Linked DNA regions of Homo sapiens: regions 1, 2 and 3 are each linked to region 4. The links come from fine-mapping of genetic effects on plasma protein levels. A gene starts in region 4. Each other region holds a variant in brackets. All regions are shown on one strand. Distances are between the middles of the regions. Region 1 overlaps RGMA (repulsive guidance molecule BMP co-receptor a). Region 2 overlaps LOC105370982 (a long non-coding RNA gene). Region 3 overlaps RGMA (repulsive guidance molecule BMP co-receptor a). Region 4 holds the start of RGMA (repulsive guidance molecule BMP co-receptor a).

Evidence for each region. PIP is the posterior inclusion probability: the model's chance that the variant is causal. The UK Biobank Pharma Proteomics Project read protein levels with antibody pairs (Olink). The fine-mapping took linkage between variants from a reference panel, not from the people measured, so its PIPs are less certain.
Region 1: its variant is fine-mapped to the plasma level of the RGMA protein (UK Biobank, PIP above 0.99). The variant lies in the coding sequence of RGMA. If it changes the protein, the assay may bind it differently, which can mimic a change of level.
Region 2: its variant is fine-mapped to the plasma level of the RGMA protein (UK Biobank, PIP above 0.99).
Region 3: its variant is fine-mapped to the plasma level of the RGMA protein (UK Biobank, PIP above 0.99).

Annotation. Positions count from the first base shown.
Region 1 is chr15:93,042,057-93,047,202 of GRCh38, reverse strand. It overlaps RGMA (repulsive guidance molecule BMP co-receptor a), which reads left to right. Exons shown (of 4, transcript NM_020211.3): 4 at 1,498-5,146. The coding sequence ends at 2,205. Among named protein-coding and RNA genes, the nearest start is that of RGMA, 45 kb to the left of the region's middle. The variant C/G (reference allele first, on the strand shown) is at 2,169.
Region 2 is chr15:93,215,268-93,220,413 of GRCh38, reverse strand. It overlaps LOC105370982 (a long non-coding RNA gene), which reads right to left. Exons shown (of 7, transcript XR_007064770.1): 2 at 630-760. Among named protein-coding and RNA genes, the nearest start is that of RGMA, 130 kb to the right of the region's middle. The variant A/G (reference allele first, on the strand shown) is at 2,863.
Region 3 is chr15:93,067,925-93,073,043 of GRCh38, reverse strand. RGMA (repulsive guidance molecule BMP co-receptor a) reads left to right here. Exons shown (of 4, transcript NM_020211.3): 2 at 13-128. Among named protein-coding and RNA genes, the nearest start is that of RGMA, 19 kb to the left of the region's middle. The variant G/T (reference allele first, on the strand shown) is at 259.
Region 4 is chr15:93,086,714-93,091,859 of GRCh38, reverse strand. RGMA (repulsive guidance molecule BMP co-receptor a) reads left to right here and starts at 2,649. Exons shown (of 4, transcript NM_020211.3): 1 at 2,649-2,941. The coding sequence starts at 2,928. It overlaps LOC101927025 (a long non-coding RNA gene), which reads right to left and starts at 2,646. Exons shown (of 5, transcript XR_007064769.1): 1 at 2,583-2,646.

The DNA.
Region 1 (5,146 bases), 45 kb after region 4:
AAACTCACCTGCTCCCCTGGCCACCGGCCCTCCTCCTCTCAGGCCTCCCACCCTATGGGCTTGTGGCCAAGAGAGCCCAGAGTCTGGAAACGCAGAGTCTAATCCCAGCTCTGCCTCTTGCTGGCTGTGTGACCTTAGGCAAGTTACTGCCTCTCTCTGAGCCTACATTTTCTCATCCGGAAAATTGAGAGTAATGTCACCGACCCTTGCAGTGTCACACGAGACTGGAAGTAATACATGCAGTGCTTAGCATGCTGTATGCAGCCAATGCCTCTGTGTCTGGCTCTCAGGAGAACAGTGCCACCCAGCCAGCTGCTGCTCCAGCAGCTCAGTCCAGCCCCTCACCCCTGGCCACAGGCTCCAGCAGAAAGGAGCCTCCCTGCTCCAGCCCCGGCCAAGGCTGCCCGTTCAGCCTGGAACCTCCATCTCCCTTTTACCGACCAGCACCTTGCTCCTTTCCTGTTCCCCTCCTCCATGACCCAGCTTGGGGACCCCTTTCAGCAGCCTTGGGACAGTGGCTTCTGCTTGCCTCTGCCTGCTTGCATGGATTTTGCCCTATTCATTCTTTCTTTGAGCATCATTTCCCTCCATTCCACCTGCTGTAATGTTCAGACATTTGCTTGGGTCCTTTGTCAGGAATTGTGCTCCAGTACCACTGTCATTATGCAAGATGATGTTTGCAAACCATATTCATTTCCTATCGCCACTGTAGCAAATTAGCATAAACTGAGTGGTTCAAACCAACAGAAATGTTTTATAATTGTGGAGGCCGGAAGTTGGGAATATGTCTCGTGGGGATAAAATCAAGGTATCAGCAGGGCTGGTCCTGGAGACTCCAGGGGAGAATCCATTCATTGCCATTTCCAGCTTTTGGTGGTTGCCAGCATCCCTTGGTTTGTGGCCACATCATTCGAATCTCTGCCTTGTTGAGCACATCACCTTCTCCTCTGTCCTAGTTAGTCAAATCTCCCTCTGCCTCCTTCTTATAAAGATACTTGTGATTCCATCTAGGGCCCACCCAGGTAATCCAGAATAATCTCTTCATCTCAGTGTTCTTAACCTAATCATATCTGCAGGGTCCCTTTTGCCATCTAAGGGAACATTCCCAAGTTACAGGGATTAGGGCATGTTCTTCTTGGGAGCCATTATTCAGCCTACCACACTGGGCTTTTGACCTTTTATTTTTAATTATCTATGCTTTTATTTTTCTGGTTCACTTCCCTATATAGTAAAAGAGCTAGTTTTCTACTTAGGGTAGTGGTCTAACATTTTTCTAAGTCACTTTTTAAAGTAAAAAGGGCAAGTTGTTTTCATTGAAAGAATGTGAAGTGCACAGCTGCGCAGGTGGAACTGATCTGTCCAACCTGGAGAAGGGAGTGTCTGGGGCATCCCTGGGGATCCTTCCTGCCCTCCTCTCAGTCTAGAGCATCTTAAGTGTGGGGCTGTGCCTCCTCCCACTGTGCCTCACCCACTCTCCTCTGCCCCTTTCCCCGGCAGCTCACCATCATCTTCAAGAACTTCCAGGAGTGTGTGGACCAGAAGGTGTACCAGGCTGAGATGGACGAGCTCCCGGCCGCCTTCGTGGATGGCTCTAAGAACGGTGGGGACAAGCACGGGGCCAACAGCCTGAAGATCACTGAGAAGGTGTCAGGCCAGCACGTGGAGATCCAGGCCAAGTACATCGGCACCACCATCGTGGTGCGCCAGGTGGGCCGCTACCTGACCTTTGCCGTCCGCATGCCAGAGGAAGTGGTCAATGCTGTGGAGGACTGGGACAGCCAGGGTCTCTACCTCTGCCTGCGGGGCTGCCCCCTCAACCAGCAGATCGACTTCCAGGCCTTCCACACCAATGCTGAGGGCACCGGTGCCCGCAGGCTGGCAGCCGCCAGCCCTGCACCCACAGCCCCCGAGACCTTCCCATACGAGACAGCCGTGGCCAAGTGCAAGGAGAAGCTGCCGGTGGAGGACCTGTACTACCAGGCCTGCGTCTTCGACCTCCTCACCACGGGCGACGTGAACTTCACACTGGCCGCCTACTACGCGTTGGAGGATGTCAAGATGCTCCACTCCAACAAAGACAAACTGCACCTGTATGAGAGGACTCGGGACCTGCCAGGCAGGGCGGCTGCGGGGCTGCCCCTGGCCCCCCGGCCCCTCCTGGGCGCCCT[C/G]GTCCCGCTCCTGGCCCTGCTCCCTGTGTTCTGCTAGACGCGTAGATGTGGAGGGAGGCGCGGGCTCCGTCCTCTCGGCTTCCCCATGTGTGGGCTGGGACCGCCCACGGGGTGCAGATCTCCTGGCGTGTCCACCATGGCCCCGCAGAACGCCAGGGACCGCCTGCTGCCAAGGGCTCAGGCACGGACCCCTCCCCTTCTAGTGCACGTGACAAGGTTGTGGTGACTGGTGCCATGATGTTTGACAGTAGAGCTGTGTGAGAGGGAGAGCAGCTCCCCTCGCCCCGCCCCTGCAGTGTGAATGTGTGAAACATCCCCTCAGGCTGAAGCCCCCCACCCCCACCAGAGACACACTGGGAACCGTCAGAGTCAGCTCCTTCCCCCTCGCAATGCACTGAAAGGCCCGGCCGACTGCTGCTCGCCGATCCGTGGGGCCCCCTGTGCCCGCCACACGCACGCACACACTCTTACACGAGAGCACACTCGATCCCCCTAGGCCAGCGGGGACACCCCAGCCACACAGGGAGGCATCCTTGGGGCTTGGCCCCAGGCAGGGCAACCCCGGGGCGCTGCTTGGCACCTTAGCAGACTGCTGGAACCTTTTGGCCAGTAGGTCGTGCCCGCCTGGTGCCTTCTGGCCTGTGGCCTCCCTGCCCATGTTCACCTGGCTGCTGTGGGTACCAGTGCAGGTCCCGGTTTTCAGGCACCTGCTCAGCTGCCCGTCTCTGGCCTGGGCCCCTGCCCCTTCCACCCTGTGCTTAGAAAGTCGAAGTGCTTGGTTCTAAATGTCTAAACAGAGAAGAGATCCTTGACTTCTGTTCCTCTCTCTCCTGCAGATGCAAGAGCTCCTGGGCAGGGGTGCCTGGGCCCCAGGGTGTGGCAGGAGACCCAGTGGATGGGGCCAGCTGGCCTGCCCTGATCCTCTGCTTCCTCCTCACAACCCCAAGAGCCCCCAGCCCGGTCCATCCACGTCTGGAGTCTGGGGAGAGGAGCAGGGTCTTAGGACTCTCAGCTCTGAGCATCCCTGGCAGGGTCTTCAACCTCTAATCTCTTCCCTTAAGCCCTGTGGCCACACAGCCAGGAGAGACTTGCCGCTGGCTCCCGCCTCATTTCAGCCCAGGGTGCTCATCCAGGGGCCCAGAACAGTCCCACCTGTGCTGCTGTGCCCACAGCACAAAGCCAGGCTTCACTCCCAAAAGTGCAGCCAGGCCCTGGAGGGTGATCCTGCCAGCAGCCCTACAGCTCCACACCCTACCCACCCATCGGCAGCCCCTCTGCTGTTCCCCAGGGACCTCTCATACACTGGCCAGGAGGCTGCAGAACGTGTGTCTCCCCCTCCCTCCAAGAGGTCCTGCTCCCTCTGCCAGAACCGTGTGTGGGCGGGTGGGAGGGCGCTCGGGGCCCGGCCCCTCCCTCTCCCTGCTGGTTTTAGTTGGTCCCTATGTTGGAAGTAAAAAGTGAAGCACTTTATTTTGGTTGTGTTTGCTCACGTTCTGCTTGGAAGTGGGGACCCCTCACTGCGTCCACGTGTCTGCGACCTGTGTGGAGTGTCACCGCGTGTACATACTGTAAATTATTTATTAATGGCTAAATGCAAGTAAAGTTTGGTTTTTTTGTTATTTTCTTTTAGACGTGTTGGAGTTTGTTTTCTGAACAGACTTTGGCTCCCTTGAGGCGGGTGGAGGATGGACTTTGGTGGTGGGATCCCCTGCAGCAAGTGTGTGTGTGTGCGCGCATGTGTGTGTGCGCGCATGTGTGTATGCATGCCTGTGTGTGTGCGTGCCTGTGTGCGTGCATGTACGCATGTGTGCGCATGCCTGTGTGTGCGCCCATGCCTATGTGTGTGCATGTAGGCATGTGTGTGCGCATGTGTATGTGCGTGAGAATGGTGTGAAGGCGGATAGAAGATGCAGCAGTTTAACAGCCACCACACATTGCTTTTGTAAAGTCACTTTTCCTCCTCACGATGAGCTGTCTTTGGAGCTTGGCAGGCCCAGATCCTCTTGTTCTAGTGACAGTGGAACACAGTCAGGGAGACAGGTGACTATGTGGTGGAGAGACATATGGTGCCCTCTGGGATGAGATGGGTGGGATAGCCTGAGATCTGGGATGACTCCCTCTCAGCCACTGCTATCAGCCTGGAGCCCCAGCTGTTGGGACTGCCTGCCACCCTCCCTGCCAGTGCCCATCTTCTCATAGCCCGGGCGGAGCAGTGGTGCTGCAGGAGGCTGCTGTCCACGTCACTGTGGGACCAGGTTTATTGGCAGCTGTGATCACATTTCATCTGTACAAACTACCCAGTGAATCAGGAAGAAATTCAGGCCCATTTTGCCGATGAAACAGACTCTGAGATTAACTGACTTGCCTAGGGCTCCTTAGCAACGGGAAGGACAACCTGTGCACCTAGGTTAGTATTGTCCTGAAGCCCCTTCTCTTCAAACTAAATGCCATGAGGCAGAATAGCAGCACAGTTAAGCCAGCCTACATCCTGGCTTCTCCACCTCCCCAGCAGTGTGACCATGGGCAAGTCACTTCACCTCTCTGAGCCTGCATGCTGTTCTCTGGAAGATGGGGGGGTGCCTGTCCCATACAGTTGTTTGGAGAGTCAGGAGTTCATTCCTGTAAATTGCTTAGGAGAGGGCGGGGCACACATGGCTTGTCTGGTCGTGGGGAGGGAGGGGGTGGTATTATCCCAAAGCAAGATAAATCAGTTAAGGGGAGAAGGAAAGGGGCGATACAGACCCTGGACTCTTGGGAGAGGTGAACCTGCAGGCTAGCAAGGGGAGGAGTCCCAAGAGTGGCCAAGTTCATTAATCCCAGGCAGACCAGGAAGGCTGAAGAAAAAGGAGAACTTTATTTTATTTTTGAAATGGAGTCTGGCGTCTTGCTCTGTCGCCAGGCTGGAGTGCAGTGGCACCATCCCAGCTCACTGCAGCCCCTGCCTCCCAGGTTCAAGCAATTCTCCTGCCTCAGCCTCC
Region 2 (5,146 bases), 130 kb before region 4:
TACCAAAACTCCAACCACACAGTATTCCTTCAGGGCAATGCTTCAACCATGTAGCCGTGGACATCCTTGCAAAGGAGGAAAAGGTTTTTTCTCTGAGTTAAACCATGATGGGGACTGAGCTCATAAAAGCACATTCAGATTTTTTTGCTGCTCCACTACATAATTTATGTCCTAGTCAGGCACAATTTTCATTTAATCAAGAGCTATCTTGTCTCCAACCTTTCAATTGGGAGTAACTTTGTACAAGATGAAAATAACCTCATCCATCATGATGATAGAAATTGTTCTATATCTTCCAGGCTTTTACTTCTGACAAAATGCCAGGAATCCTGCTTCCTTGGGTGGCTTATGGAAATGCAGCAGACCCAAATTTCATTAGGACTGTAATAGCATGTCCTGTCCATGGATTAATGTGTGCCAGATGTGCAGGTTCAACCACATCTGCAAGCACCAGCCACCTGCTCAGAGGAGTCGGCCTCCAAAGCCAAGGCAAGAGAAGGCTGCTAACATTTTATTTGCCCTCCACCCTGGAGCAAAAATAATAATAATAATAATAATAACTTAAAATGCGGCAGAGGGATTGCCTAGCTTTTATTCAAAGGGGTGATGGTTTACATGAAGCTACGTACCACTAGGTCTTTCCAAGCATCTTTCTTGGACTTCTGCACCAATGTATTTAAAGGCTGAAAACCAAAGTTCCCATCCCATCACAGTGATCTTGGATAAATTCCTCGGCATCCGTGAGCTTTGCATTCCTTGTCTGTAAAATGACAGCAACAACACGAACTTGCAGGGTGGCAGTGAAAATGAAATGAGATGAAACAGAAGAAATTGCATTGCACAGTGAGAGGAGCATAGTAATTGCTCAATAAATGTTGTCCAGTCCACATTTGCGATTTTTTTTTAAGTCACATAGGTAGGGCCAAGACTGCGCTTGGATCCAGTGTGCTTGGGCCAGTGGGCTTGGATCTTGCTTTCATTCTCAAACCTGTCACCCTTCACATACACACTCAATCTCTCTCTCATGCACACACACTCTCTCTCTCAGCTTTGTTTGGGCCTGTACTATAGTGCAGGGGTTGGCTTGAGAGGCAGGAGGAACAGAAGGGCCCAGGCAAGTCATTTCTGAAAGTAAAAGTCAGAAACAGAGACATGGCAGAATGCAGGCCTAATCTACCCCTCTTCACTTCACTCACGTGGCCTGCAGAGCACATGGCAGTGCTGACAGGAATCTATGCACATATGCACTACCCACATACCCCTAAGCAATATATGGTTTAGTTTTGATTGTTTTTAATCTTTATATAAATGAAGCCATCCTTATCTATTCCTGTATGACTTTTGTTTTTCATTCAACATTATTTTTCTGAGATTCATTCATGTTAATGCATGAAGCTGTAATTTTTCCTGTTCACTACTGTATAATATTTCATTGTGTGACTATACCAGAATGTATTCTACCACTGATAAACATCCGTGCTGTTTCCAATTTTTTGCTATTATAAACAGTGCTGCAATGAACATTCCTGTATTGGTGCATATGATCAAAAGATTCTCCAATACATATGGCTAGAAGAACACTGCTGGATCAAAGGTTATGCCTAATTTTGACTTTAGCTAAGCTATTTTGACTTTTGACTATAGCGTCAAATTATTTTTCCAAAGATCTTCTTCCAGTTCACAGTCTAATTTCCTATTTCTTGGCAGAAATGTTGAAAACTACCTTGGAGAATGTTATTCCTAGATTTTTTGAGCTTAATCTCTGAATTTCATTTACCTTAGTGGCCCGTCAAGCTGTCTCCAACATTTCAGAAGCCACATTAATGTGAGAAAACTATGAGAATTATATCCAATTTGTTTCTTTCTTTACTAGAAATTAAGCTATCTACTCTTGCAATGGAATACTTTGAAGAAATGATGGCAAGTAGCCTAAATCGCTCTTTTTCTTCAATACTTAAGAATGTAACTAAAAATTCATACCAACTGGCCGGGCGCAGTGGCTCATGCCTGTAATCCCAGCACTTTGGGAGGCTGAGGTGAGCGGATCATAAAGTCAAGAAATTGAGACCACTCTGGCCAACATGGTGAAACCCTGTCTCTACTAAAAATACAAAAATTAGATGGGCGTGGTGACGCGTGCCTGTAGTCCCAGCTACTCAGGAGGCTGAGGAAGGAGAAGCATTTGAACCTGGGAAGCAGAGGTTGCAGTGAGCCGAGATCGCGCCACTGCATTCCAGCCCGGCGACACAGCAAGACTCTGTCTCAAAAAGAAAAAAAAGAAAAAAAAATTCACACCAATTATCCAGTTGATTTTTAAGTGCAAAATGCAAGAATTCCCAATATTAGGTCACAAGGACAGGTTTTGCCTATTTTCAATGCTAATACATAATTAAACTTCCATCTATGTTTTAAGATTGTTTTTCTCAACCAAGTCTGATGAATTATATAATTTGTGATGTACCTGTTGACAAATCATGCTTCTTTTACATAATTAAAGTAAATGAAACAGTATGCATCACTTATTAGCTGGGTGTTTAAAAAATCTTACAGTCAATTTTTATAACATATAACATGCAAAAATGACAAAATGTGGTGCTTTTTTTTAAGAAATTTCTACAGGATGGGGAGGGGTAAGAGATTGCACACTTTCGGAAGGAAACAGCAGGTGCAAACTTTTGCAAAGCACCTCTCTGCACTACACACCCTCCTCCCCTCTCCACCTCATGTGACCATGGACAAATCAGACACATTGGGAAAGACACACCCTAATCTGTTTCCATGGCCCTATGAGAAGCACAGATTTGGAAATACAATTCCCAGCAAGCCCAGGCATTTTAATGAGCCATGGCCAACTGGAGTGAC[A/G]GAATCCTTCAGCCATGTCAAATGCCACCACAGCTGGCCCAGGGCAAAAGAAAGTGCCTCCTCCCTGGGACACCACCCTGTGTCCCAACCACATGAGATAAAAATGCAGAGTGCATTTCCCAGCTTCCCTCAGGACCCAGGAGAAATGCAGGCTAAATGCAGAGCAGGGAGCCTTGGCATCTCAGGCCAAGTTGGAATGCCGAACCATTCAAGGAACACCAGCCAAGGCAGGAAATGGGCAGGGAAGGGGCTAAGAGCAAACCTAATCAGTCCAGCAACCTTGCAAATGACATTTGGAAGTGCAAAGTCGTTCTGAGTTCCAGAACAAGAAATATCTTTAGATGTTGAAATGGCTTTTGCCAAATGCCAACCTGCTGAATTTGTTTTTCTTTTGGTTCATTAAAAAAGAATAACCATTTGTGCATTTATGAAAAGAAATATTACCTTCCCAGGGTCTACAGGCAACTACCTGGAATTTGGCGTAGTCTCTCCTTGTGAGCTGTTTTTTTTTCTTTATATCAGCAAATATTGATTGACTATGGTGTGTCAAGGCAACGGAGAAACAGTCCCTACTCTCAAAGAGCTTCTAGTGTGGTGCGTGGACAGAATGAAATGCAGACGATTACGATGCAACATGGCCTGCGGCTCATTCTACAGAAGTGGTGACCACCACGCTACAAAAGCAAGCCGAAGGAAGTGGGAGGAAGTTCCAGGTACAAAGTTTCTGCATACAAAGAGGCACGAGGAGGTGGCAGAATCAGTGCCAGGCTCTGCTAAAAGCACTGGGCATATATGAACCTATTTTATCCTCAACAACCCATGCAGGTGCTGCTACCATCTTCACTTTACAAATGAAGAAACTGAGGTACAGGAAGGTTGATTGACTTCCCCAAGATCCCCCAGCCAGGAATTGGCTGAAAGTAGTTCAAAATGGTTGGAGCATATTAGGGGTCTGAGAGGGTGAGGGGAATGAGGGGGAAACAGGTTGTCAAGACATATAAAATCAGGAAGAAGCCAAATTGTGAAGGTCCACACATATCATGTTGGGAATTTGCAAGCATGTAAGCAACCCCTGAAGAAGTTCAAGGGGGTAATGCTAGGAGCTGAGGTGGGCTCTAGAAAGCTTACGCCATGTATCTTGTGGAAATTAGATTGAATGCAAGCAAGGTTAGTGGAGGGTGAGGGGACCAATCTAGTGAGAGGTAATGGTGGCCTGAACTAGAGGAGTAGCAGTGGGGGTGACAGGCATTTGGATAATTCCAGGGACCTTTGCTAAGTAGAATCAACTGGACAATAGCTGATGAAATGGGAGAGTTAAGGCGGGGCAGGGGTCGGGGTACGGAGGCCAGCTTCCAGGCTCCTGGCGCGAGCTCCACACAGATTATTGGACCACCAGAAGAATTCTCTCAGATCTGAGAATAACAACAATGGAACTGGCCCTGTTCTTCAACTATTTACTAGCACCAGGCTGGACACTTAGAAGAATACTTCTGTCTTAGAAGTATTCTTCTGGCTCTGCCAATGTGACCAGAATGTTCCCAGAGATAGGCACTCCCTCCTCCACACTCATTTCTCTAAGTCTTCGTGCTCTGTGTTTCTGGACATACCGTTTTAACAGGTCCTGGCTTTAGCCATCCCAGGAGGAATGTATGACCCCAGAGTCCTGGTGAAGAATGAGCAGATACACCCAGTGGCCTCTAGACTTTTCCATCACAACCCATCATGTCTGCATTCTTTTTTAAACCCAAATCAGACTTGGGCCCACGCATATTTTCCCAACACTTTAAAGCCACGTGTGGGTTTTCAGTGAAATTGAATCTGTATGTTTCTGATCCTTCTACACTTCAGTCATTCCCGTGATTTGAGGAAACAGCTACTTGACATCCAGGAAACCTTCCCGGACATTTCATGACATTTCAAAGCCTCCTTTTCTCCTGTCTTAGACATAGGAAGCAACAACCTGCCAAGTATAAGCAAAACCCCTTCTCCAAGATGCTTGAGTCTGATTTTAAATGTCTTTCTCTGTAAGAGTTAGAGAAAAGAAAGCAAGAGATGAGGTAAGAGCAGAAAGCCTACGGAGAGAAGGAACAAAGAAACCAGCAACATGAAAAGTCCCAGTCATCAGACTAAGAAACTACTGTCACCATTTTGGTATTTGTTTAGGGTATTTGTTTATTAATTTGTTCCCAAGCCCTTTCACATAGAATTTGAAGTGGCAACAAGATAACCATAAAACAGAACCTGTAAGTAAAAAAATTATCAGAACCATTGCTTGAGGCCAGGA
Region 3 (5,119 bases), 19 kb after region 4:
CTCTTCTTCCAGGGAGAGGCTAGTGGTAACAGGCCGAGCTGGATGGATGGGTATGGGGAGAGGGGCAGGACGTTCAGCCCTGGGATTCTGGCCGACCCTCGCCTTCCTTCTCTGCAGCTTCCCCGCAGGTAAGGCACTGCCGGCCGGGCGCGCGGGGCCGGGTCCCTGGGCCGCCCCTCAATGCTGGGCCAGATGTGCGCGAGTGAGTCCGGGCTCAAGTTCTCCGGACCTCCTCCGGACCCCGCCTCCTATTTCCAC[G/T]GGTCTTTTGTTTCTCCCGCACCCCGTCGTGGGTGCGATGCCTGCCCTTGGGGACCCGGAGAGGGGCACCCTGCCCGAGTTGCCGTGAGATGGAGCCGTGTGGGGAGGGCGCAGGGGCCGGGGTGCCTCACTCCCTTCCCTTTTTCCGAGAAAGGGGGTGGCTGGGAACGTGCCTCCTAGGGGCTCGGGAAGAGGGGGAGAAGGGGAGGCACGCCCTCGGTGCTGGGGACACTTTCTTCAGCTCCTCGCCCAGCAGTTTGCAAACCTGCCGGGTGCCCAGGGGTGGAGCCAGGGTCGCCCCTGAGGTCCCAGCCGAGTTCCCGACAGCCCCCTCCCCGGAGACCTCGTCTCGTTTCCACCCATTTGGCCACGCGGGGACACCCACGGACTCGGCTCAAATGAGCTGGTGTTCCTGTTTGATAACTTTCTGCGTCGCCCCCTGTTTGTTTTTATTGTGTCAGAAAAGGAGAGAATTTCAGAATTAAAGCTGAAAAAGCCCATCTGTTTCCAATGAATCCCCCATAGTTTTTCACAATGTTTTTGGCAGATCGCTGCTTTCAAATTCCTCCGAGCCCGGACCTCTTGTTTTTGTTGGGGGAAGGGAGACCAACTCCACAGAGAAGCATTTGTTCCTTCCCAAACGCTCCAGTTTCTTTACTTTTTTTCCTTTCGGGGGGAGGGGGGAGGCATGCAACTTAAATCCCCGGCCTGTTTTCTTTATGATGTTTCATAAAACTTTATTTCATTTTTGCCATATGCTGCTCACAGCCAGAAAACGCCAGTTAAGCCCTTTATACCCATTTTTTTTCTTGCTAAAAATACAAATAAACACAATGTCACGGGCCAAATGGCCCCCCCGGCGCAAGGCGGGATCTCCCAGCCGTTTCCATTGTGTTTGCGGGGTTCAGAGGTGTCTTTTTGAAAAAATTTCATCTTGTTTCGCACCACAGCCAGGCGTAGAGCCGCAGCCCCCGCGCACTACTGAGCTTTGCAAGAAAGGACTTGAGTTTAGACTCGGATTGGGTTATTTTGATTTGCTCTTCCGCCAACTGGGTTTCAAGGAACTGGCAAAACTGGGCAGGTCTGGCTCGGCCTGGCTGTGAGTTGGGGCTCCCAATGGGCGGACCACGCAGACAGTGAACAGTAGGGAGCGAGGGATCAGTTTACCCCCTAGTCCCAGCCCTGCTCCTGGCCCCCAGCGCCAGCTCAGACTTGTGCGTCCGGCTTACTCAACCACTGCGCACCCCAGAAGGGTCGCAGAGAGCCGCAACCTGCTCTCCAGACCTAGGTTCCATAGGGAGGCCTGGCCAAGGACAAGATGTCGGGTGAGGGATCTTGGTATCCCCAAAAAGTACTCAGCTTGGAATGTCAAAACCTCCGCAGGGGATCAAACAGCAGGGTGCCCTCTCCTCACCCCCAGTGTATTTAAAAGGCAGTTTCTCCACCTACTTAAGAGTCTGGTTGAACAGCCCAATTTGGTTTCCTCCCAAGAATTCAAAATTAAAATAAAAATCACCCTATTTAAGAAGAAGTCAACGTTTTGGAAAAGCAGGAGTTTGCAATTTGTGTTCTTGGTTTGGTCTAGATAAAGATCAAGCCCATTGGAAGTTTTATCAGATGGGTTGATAAATGGCTTTTGTCCCTTGGCTGCCGTGGGGGATGTGATCTCAGCTCAAAGCTGAAATTGAGAAGAGGGGCTTAGAGGCCCTTAAAACAACACCTTCCCGCTCTTAAAGCTGCAGCACTTGTTACCTTTTGGGGCTGGAGAGGAAAGGAAGGCCTGGCAGAAGTTTCCAGAGGTAGGAGGCTGCATGGCCTGAGTGGTGGTGGTTTTGTTGTTTCTCGATTTATTTCTCCATCCTAAAAACTTTTATTTTAAAGCATCCCGCCATAGGCTGAGGAACACTGGTAGGTTATATAAGTCACAGCCCAAATTCCATCACTTTTGTTTCCAAGAAACCCATTTCTTTTTGGCGTCAAGGCCGGTAACTAAAACCTGGCCGATGGAACTGATAGCTGCTCTCCTGTCACGCCAGCTGGCTAATGTTTCTTCTCATTTGAGGGCTTGACAGCTGCGTTTAGTCAAAATTGCCCACCTGACTGAAAACTGAGCTTCCAGTACCCCAAAACTAAATATACTGGGGGCTCCAAAACTTGTGTGCTCTAGAAATGTGGGTCAAAAGACAGTTTCTTAAGTAAGGGATGAAATGGGAAATTTCCACAACAGAGAGAGACTGTCCCATTCTTTGACACATTGACCAGGAGAGGGGCCGCTTAGGAATGAAGTTAGAAAACTTGCAGGTCTGATGGAGAGCAAGGCGGGAGATCGAGAAATAAAGCCCCAGCAAGTGGAAGGCACCCAGACACACTGGGGGCCCCTGTGTGCCTTGGCCTCTCCCGTTGAAGACAGGTGGAAACTGGCCGAGCAACTGCGTGAAAGCCTCGGTTTGTTCTGTGCTAGTCAGCTTGAATGGCTGCCAGGAGTAAGCCTATAGGAGTGCAAATTAAATCGAACATAGTTATGTGGAGAAAGATGCCTTCACCTCAGCTACACTGAGAGCGTTTGTGTGTTTCGAGTGTTTGCATTTACTTACTCCATGTGGATGGCCAACCTACTGGGTTCCTGACTCAGTGACAACTTTTGGAGCCTTCTAACCAAGCCCCTCAGGCAGACCACAGCCTGGTGATGAGAAAGGGCCCCTGCACTGTCAAGCGGTCTGGAAGGGTGTCTGTTTAGATGATTCTTTGGGGACAGCACAGGCAGACAGTGTCCACGTCTACCTAGGAAGGGAGGCCAGAAAGGACTCTTAAAAGAGCATTCCACAAATGGCATCCTACTCAAATCACAGCTAATAGATGGCTTTTTAAACTTTGAAGCCATTGTGACTTTTTCGAAAAGAGTTCCAAGAGAAATCCATCCAGGCATATGTTTCGGACATGTCACCAGGCTTCCTGTTCACTATGTGTGGGTCCTGTACTTCAGCACAGTGGTTCTCCAAGTGTGGTCCCTGGACCAGCAGCATTAGCCTTCCTTGGGAACTGGTTAGAAATGCAAGTTCTAGGCCCACCACAGACCTATAGAAGCAGTTACTCTGGAGCTGGGGCCCTGCAGTCTGTGTTCTAGAGCAGGCCCTCCAGAGAGCTCTGATGCATGCTCAAGTTTGAGGATCGCTGTTCTAAGAACTATTGCACTCCAGACTTTCTTTGTTCCTTCTTTCTTCCCCTTATACTTTGAACTGCAGCTGTTTTAGAAATGTTAGTCCTCAGTGGGTAACTAAGGTTTCGGGAGACCAAGGCCCTCTGCAGTGTCCAGGTACATCTGTGTCGCTATAGAAATGAGACTGTTTCTATCAGAGCTGCTATTCAAAAATGCATCGGCCAGGCGCGGTGGCTCACGCCCGTAACCCCAGCACTTTGAGAGGCCGAGGTGGGTGGATTGCTTGAGGCCAGGAGTTCGAGACCAGCCTGACCAACATAGCGAAACCCCGTTTCTACTGAAAATACAAAAATTAGCTGGGCGTGGTGGCATGAGCCTATAATCCCAGCTACTCGGGAGGCTGAGGCAGGAGAATCGCCCGAACCCGGGAGGTGGAGGTTGCAGTGAGCTGAGATCGCACCACTGTACTCCAGCCTGGGTGACAGAATGAAACTCCGTCTCAAAAAACAAACAAAAAAAAAATGCATCAGCAGATCAGCCTGCTTACCACACTATTGCTCTCCCAGTAGGACTTTGTGTCCCAAGGGGAGAGTGTCTTAGTTTGTTTGGGCTGCTGTAACAAAATACCATAAGTGGGTGGCTTATACATGACAGACATTTATTGCTCACAGTTCTGAAGGCTGAAAAGTCCAAGAGTGATAGGTGCTGGCAGATTTGATGTCTGGTTTGTAGATGGTGCCTTACAGCTCTGTCCTCACAGGGCAGAAGTGAGGGCACTCTGTGGGGTCCCTTTTATAAGAGCACTAATCCCATTCTTGAAACCTCCACCCTGATGACCTAATCACTTCCCAGATCCCTCCTACTTCTCATACCATCACTTTGGGGTTAGGCTTTAAAAGGTGAATTCGGAGTTGATGTTCAGTGGCAAGAACCAGCCAGCTAGCAACCAGTGTGTGACGGCACCTGCAGAGCAGCGCATTGGCTCCCAGGGAGAGCACGCACATAAAACTCTACAGATGGCCAGCCACTAGGCCCTGAGGGTGTATTGAGGAGAAAGGGAAAGGATCTCTAGTCTTGTGATCTGAGGAAGGGAAAGGTCTTTGCAAGGTTGGAGAAATGGCTAGTAGTCACTCCAGCGCTCAGAGGATGGGAGCTGGGGAGAGGTGATCTGTGGGCACAGATAAGGCCACTCTATGAGATGGAGAAGAGGAGGCCTTGGAAGATAAGAGGCTGAAGGTGGGGACCAGTTTACATGTTGGGGAGAGTGTCGTTCCTGCTAGAGATCTTGTCTTTGGTGAAATGTGCGAGGCCTAGAACTGGGCAGAGAACCCCAACTTTAGGTTTTGGTTGAGTAGCAGTTAGGGGCCATGCTGTTTTGCTGCTTGGCAAAAATTCAACCAGCCTTAAATTGAAGACAGTATTTCTTTGAAGGTAGCCAACTTATCCCAGTTTGCCCAGGACTTTCCTAGTTTTAAAACTGGAATCTATATGTCCTGAGAACTATCCTCAGTCCCTGGCACACCAGGACAGTTAGATTAAAACCCTAGTTTTATCCTCTCCTGTCCCCTGGACTCATGCCTAGCCTGTATCTGTTAGGGACTCCCCTGTCCAGATCTGTGAAGTCCTGGGTGTGAAGTGGGCCCCTCCATGTGGTCTAATCACCTGGGGCCATGGGTCCTTCCTCCTCCTGGTCCTGCCTGTTCC
Region 4 (5,146 bases):
AAAGGGATGGCCCCCAGTGGCAACCCTGAGTAAAGTAAGGCCAATTCACTGTCACATTGCTTGGTCAATTTCACTATGAATCCACGCTCCGAGGACGCACTCTTGCCCAGTAGGCACCACCCCTCACTGGCAACAGAGAGACAGCAAATTGCTCCGCACCCCAGTAGCACAGGCTTTCCCTGCGCCGGGTGTGGTGCATCCCAGGAGAGCTTTCTCACACCAGGTGGCATCCAGGTGGATCTGGCGACCGCCCAGCAAGCATGTATCCCCTCTCACAAAAGGGAAGAAAAGGAAGAGTGGCCAAGAAGGGGTGGAAACCCCAGTTTTCCTCTATAAATGTGACGCCGGATTTTAACCTCTCCCTCGGCAAATCTACATATCAGACAAAAAAGAAACTAATATAGATATTAGTCTTGTACTGACTTAGACTTTCACTTACCCCGCCCCTTGTTTCTTAATGGCCTTTTTTCTTTTTTTTAAACTCTTGTACCTAGGTTAGCCTGTTTCCTGTTCATATTAAGGAATCCAGGCCCTTTGCAGTAAAGAAAGCCAAGGATACCCTGGAGCTTTATATTAGGAATGTTTCTAGATTGTTGGTTGAAAGCATGTCCATTTCTTAATTTGCACCCTAAACACACTTCACGGCTTCATTTAAATCTGAGCACTCTGTGTATTCCAACTGCCTATGCAGGGTTCTAACTTAACCAAGTACTTAACGAGTAGCATTAATATTCGTTGTCTTCTCCACGGGTGCCTGCACTCATCAAGGTAAATAGTTACCGGCTACCTCCACGGCCCTTGATTGAGCTGAGAATTGTCTGTCCTTATCTAGACAGTGGATTGTTTGTCCCCCACCATGGGAAAACCCTGCTGGTTACTTTCCAAAGGCCTCATTTTAAAAAGACACGTTTCCACTTACAGACCTTTTAAAAATGCCAGGCAATTTGGAAGAACAGTAAGAAATCTACTATCTGCGTGACAGTCATTCAGAGATTCTTGTAGTGTGCCAGGCACCATATTAAGTGCTAGGAATGCAATGATGACTCCAAGGAGTCCTGGTTCCTGCCCTCATGATGCTTATGGTACGGTGGGAGAGGCCAACATGTAGGGAAAGGTCACTCTAATGAGCGCCTAATTACCGAGTGAGCTCAGTGTTAGGAAGGAAAGGCACGGATGTGAGGACTCCCTAGAGGGTGGGGAAGATGTTGGAGCTGAGCTATGAAAGATGAAGAAATTGGTTATTCACTGAATGTCAGGGCACAGAATGTCAGGGCAGGAAGACCACACACACACACACACACACACACACACACACACACACACACACCCTACTATTCATAGATGAGGAAACTGAGGCCCAGCAGAGCTAGATGACTTGCCGAAGGTCAGAGCTAATTCTAGAAACCCATCCCCAATCCCTTCCTGCTAAACCACTTAATTTTATTTATATCCCAGCTATAGATTATACAAATACACTTGACAAATAAAACGGAGAATATTGAGTTAAAACCACATCTCTGAAGACCACACGCATAAATAACGATCGTGTTTTAATGCGGACGATACCTTTTCATTTTGCAAATCCAGAGTTCTCATCATATCAAAATTCAAGACAGTTTGTTCTGTAAGAAGGGGAAGGTCATAACCCTGTCTAGAATGTACTGGCAAATCTCTCTAACCGTGCAGTGCTAATTTGGGCCTGAGCTGTGTAACCAGACCGACTTCACGCTCCAGCTGGGGTTTCAGATCCACACATGGCGATTGGGTGGCTCTTTGCTGTTTCACAGCAAGGGTCCTTCCCTGGGCTCCCGGAGCCTCTGGGGATTTACTGCTCCCGACGTGGCCGTGTTCAAGCCACTGTGTGCATGCGCTTAATGTTGAAAACATTCTTTTGAAAAGCCCAGGAGATTCCACTCGCAATCTGTGCGTGTGCATGTAAAAGCGCAGAGACTGGAAAGAACCGCGGCAGAGCACACCCTGACCGAAGGTTACCGCGGGGGAGCCGCGGCCGTGGGAGAGCCGCGGCCGTGGGAGGGAGTGCGATACGGTCTTTTCACTCTAGACACTCCTGAGTTATGTACAATTCTACGCAAGAATGTATGCGTGTGTTAGCATGTAATACATATGTATTAGTTTTTTCAGGAAGATTCTTAAACAACAACAAAATCTCTATAGAACAAAGGTGCGTCTCCGCAGAGCGCAACAGCATTTGTCTTGGATGTAACCGCCTTCTCCAGAAATCTCAGAGGAACTCCCCTCGACCACCGCCTAACTGAAGGACACCGTGCGCTCCACCGCAACCCTGCGGGCGATTCGGAAAGTTGGAGGCGCCCCGGGGAGTCGCCGCACTTGCCGCCCGCGCCCCCTAACCTGAGCATTCAAGGAGTCTTGACTTGGCCGCTGGCGCACTCCGCACCCACCCAGCCGGTGCTGATGCGGGAGGGTGGGGCCGCGGCGGGGCGGGGCAACGCGAGCCCGCACCCCGCTCCTCCCCGCCCCTCCCTGCCGGCCCCGCCCGCGCGCGCCCCCCGCCCGCGGCCCGGGCGCCCGGCCCGCCCCCTCCCCTCGGCGCGCAAACGAACCTCGCGACGCCGCGCTCGGCGGCGGGCGGGGGCCGGGCGAGGGAGGGGGCTGGTCCCGGCCGCCCCACTCTGCAGTTGTCTCCCGAGCGCTGGCTGCGCCGCCCGAGCCGCTGGGCCGGGGAAGCACTGGCCGTTCGCTCCCGGGCCGGCTCCGCCAGGCGCTCGCAGGCATGCAGCCCGGGAGCAGGAGGCGCTCCCCGGGCCGCTGCTGAGCCGGCCGGGGCGGCGGGGACCAGCGCCAGCGGAGCCCCTCCCACCTTGCCCCGGGGCAGACGAGCGGCGCCCCGACACCCCCTCTTCTCCCGCAGCCCCGCCAGCGCCACCCCCCGCGGGCCGCAGGGGCTCATGCAGCCGCCAAGGTAAGCGCGGGTCGGGAGCCGGGCAGACCCGGCTCTGACATCTCCGAGGCGCCGCCGACACATGCCGGGGCCACGGCGCTGCTTTGGTCTTCCTTAGCCCCGCGTCTCATCTTGCTCCCATCTTGCCCACATTTGGAGCTTTGCTGCGCCTCTATCGCTTTAGCTGTTGGCAGCAGGAAAGTTTTTGTGGTTTGGTGTTTGTTCTTTTTTCCTAAAATACTCTCCCCCGGGCAGCCGCCAGCGCGCGTGGTTGGGCAGACCCGGCACACGTCCCTTACACCGTGTGCGGGCTGGGAGCTCCTTCCCTCAGCCCGGCTCGCGGAGCCCCGGACGGAGCCGGCCACCCGACTGTCCCGCCGTGAACCCCCATTGGCCCGCGCCGCCCGGGCCCCCGCCTCCCGCTCGACGCCCGGCTGCGGAGCTGCCTGGCCATCTCCTGCCCTCGGGGATGTCGGCGCAGTGCACCGCGTGGGCTCGCGTCCCGGCGGCCCTTTGCCTCGGCGCGCCGGCGTACGGGAAGGTGCGGACCTTGGATTGAGGGCCGAGGATGCCCATTGCCAAGCCGCCCCGGCTTTCCTAAGTGGACGGGAGGGCACGGCGACGATTCAGCGCCGGCTCGCGCCGCAGCTCAACCCAGGGTACAAGCCCGGGCATGGGGGACAGGTGTATTCAATGGGAGGGCGGGTGTGGGGGACGCTCGGGTGCAATTCGGGATTGCGTCTTATTAATGTAATTGTATTAGACTTGCTCGGAGGTAGAATCAGTTCTCCCAAATTGAGATTTCTAATGGGAGCCTGTGAGCTGCTATTATGTGGTGTGGTTTTGGGAGGTGTTGGGTTGTATTTATTTTATAAATTGGGTGTCTCGCGGGCGGAGTAGGGGAAGTAGCGCCATCTAGCGGAAGTGGTGAGCTGTGCATTCCTCTTAGGCTGCGAAGTTGTTGGGTGTTCTCAAAGTAGTCTCCCGCACAAGGTGGAGAGGCGGGAACCAGCCCTCGCCTCCAGGAAGGAGGCTACAGAAGCTCTCTGAGTATCGACGGTACCAGGGAGAACCCCGACCTCCCATGCTCAGCACATTGAGCTCAGGGGACGAAATTGCGGGTCGTGTTGAGTGGCATGCTGTCACCTAAAGGAGCTCCATCACCTTCTCTGTTTGGTTTTAGACTCTTCCAGCAAAAACGTAATATAAAATGTTAACTGCTGTAAGAAGATGCCCCTTCCGCAGGTATCTGGTGCAGAGATCTTGAAAACCAATGCACAAACCTCTGTCTTCTCCTGTGCATCACAAACGGGTGATTTCTTGGGTGGATTTTGAGCCATGACCCCTAGAAAAGAGAGTAACTGTGCTCCGAAGGGCAACAGGAGGAGAACTGGGAGAGGGCCTCCTGCCCATTTGTGCAGGAACAGAATAGTGTACCCAAACTGGGTTTTGTGGTTTTTTTTTTTTTTTTTTTTGCACATACAAAGAAGGGGTTTCTTGCTGTTACCACAGCAAGTGACAAGCAAGCCCCCTTTACAGGGACATGATCTCCAATTAACAACTGGGGCAGACGTGGCTGGATGGCAAGTTCTGCAGACAAAGGCTCTGGGTGGGGCACCCACACATCCAGGCGGGCTCCACGTTCTCTGTGGCTGGTTTTTGCTGCCACCTTCCAGGCCAGATAATATATTAGCAGTGAGCTGGGCTCACCCGGTTCTGAAGGGCACCCTGGCCCCTTGTAGAGCAGTGTAGTGGTCTACTGTAGTACCCCCTTGAGACTCTCTGGGCTGTGCTGGTAGTGAAAGAGGTCTTAGCCTCCTTTTTTCAAGTACCCTGCTTCCATTATTTCCCTCCCAGGTGTCAGACAGTTGCTTACATTCTCCAATAGACATATGAAATGGTGGGTGGCTGGTCTGCCCCGTCATGCTGTCTCAAACTGTGTCTCCATTGGTAGGTATTTATGTCATCATGAGACTTGTGACAGACGAGGTCTTAGAATAGCTTGGCATCTCATTCAAGGAGGGCACCTTTGACTTTTGCTAAGAAACCTCTGCCTGCTTTCTCTTTTTACAAACCTCCTCCAAGGAATAACTTGCTGCTTCCCAGTGTATGTAATAATAGACAATAAAGGCACAAGAATCTCCTTTTTAATACAATCCCTTGCTCTTCAGCAGCCCTGTGAGAAGCCAAGCCCAAGAATTCTTAGACGAGCAGTTGCAAAATGAA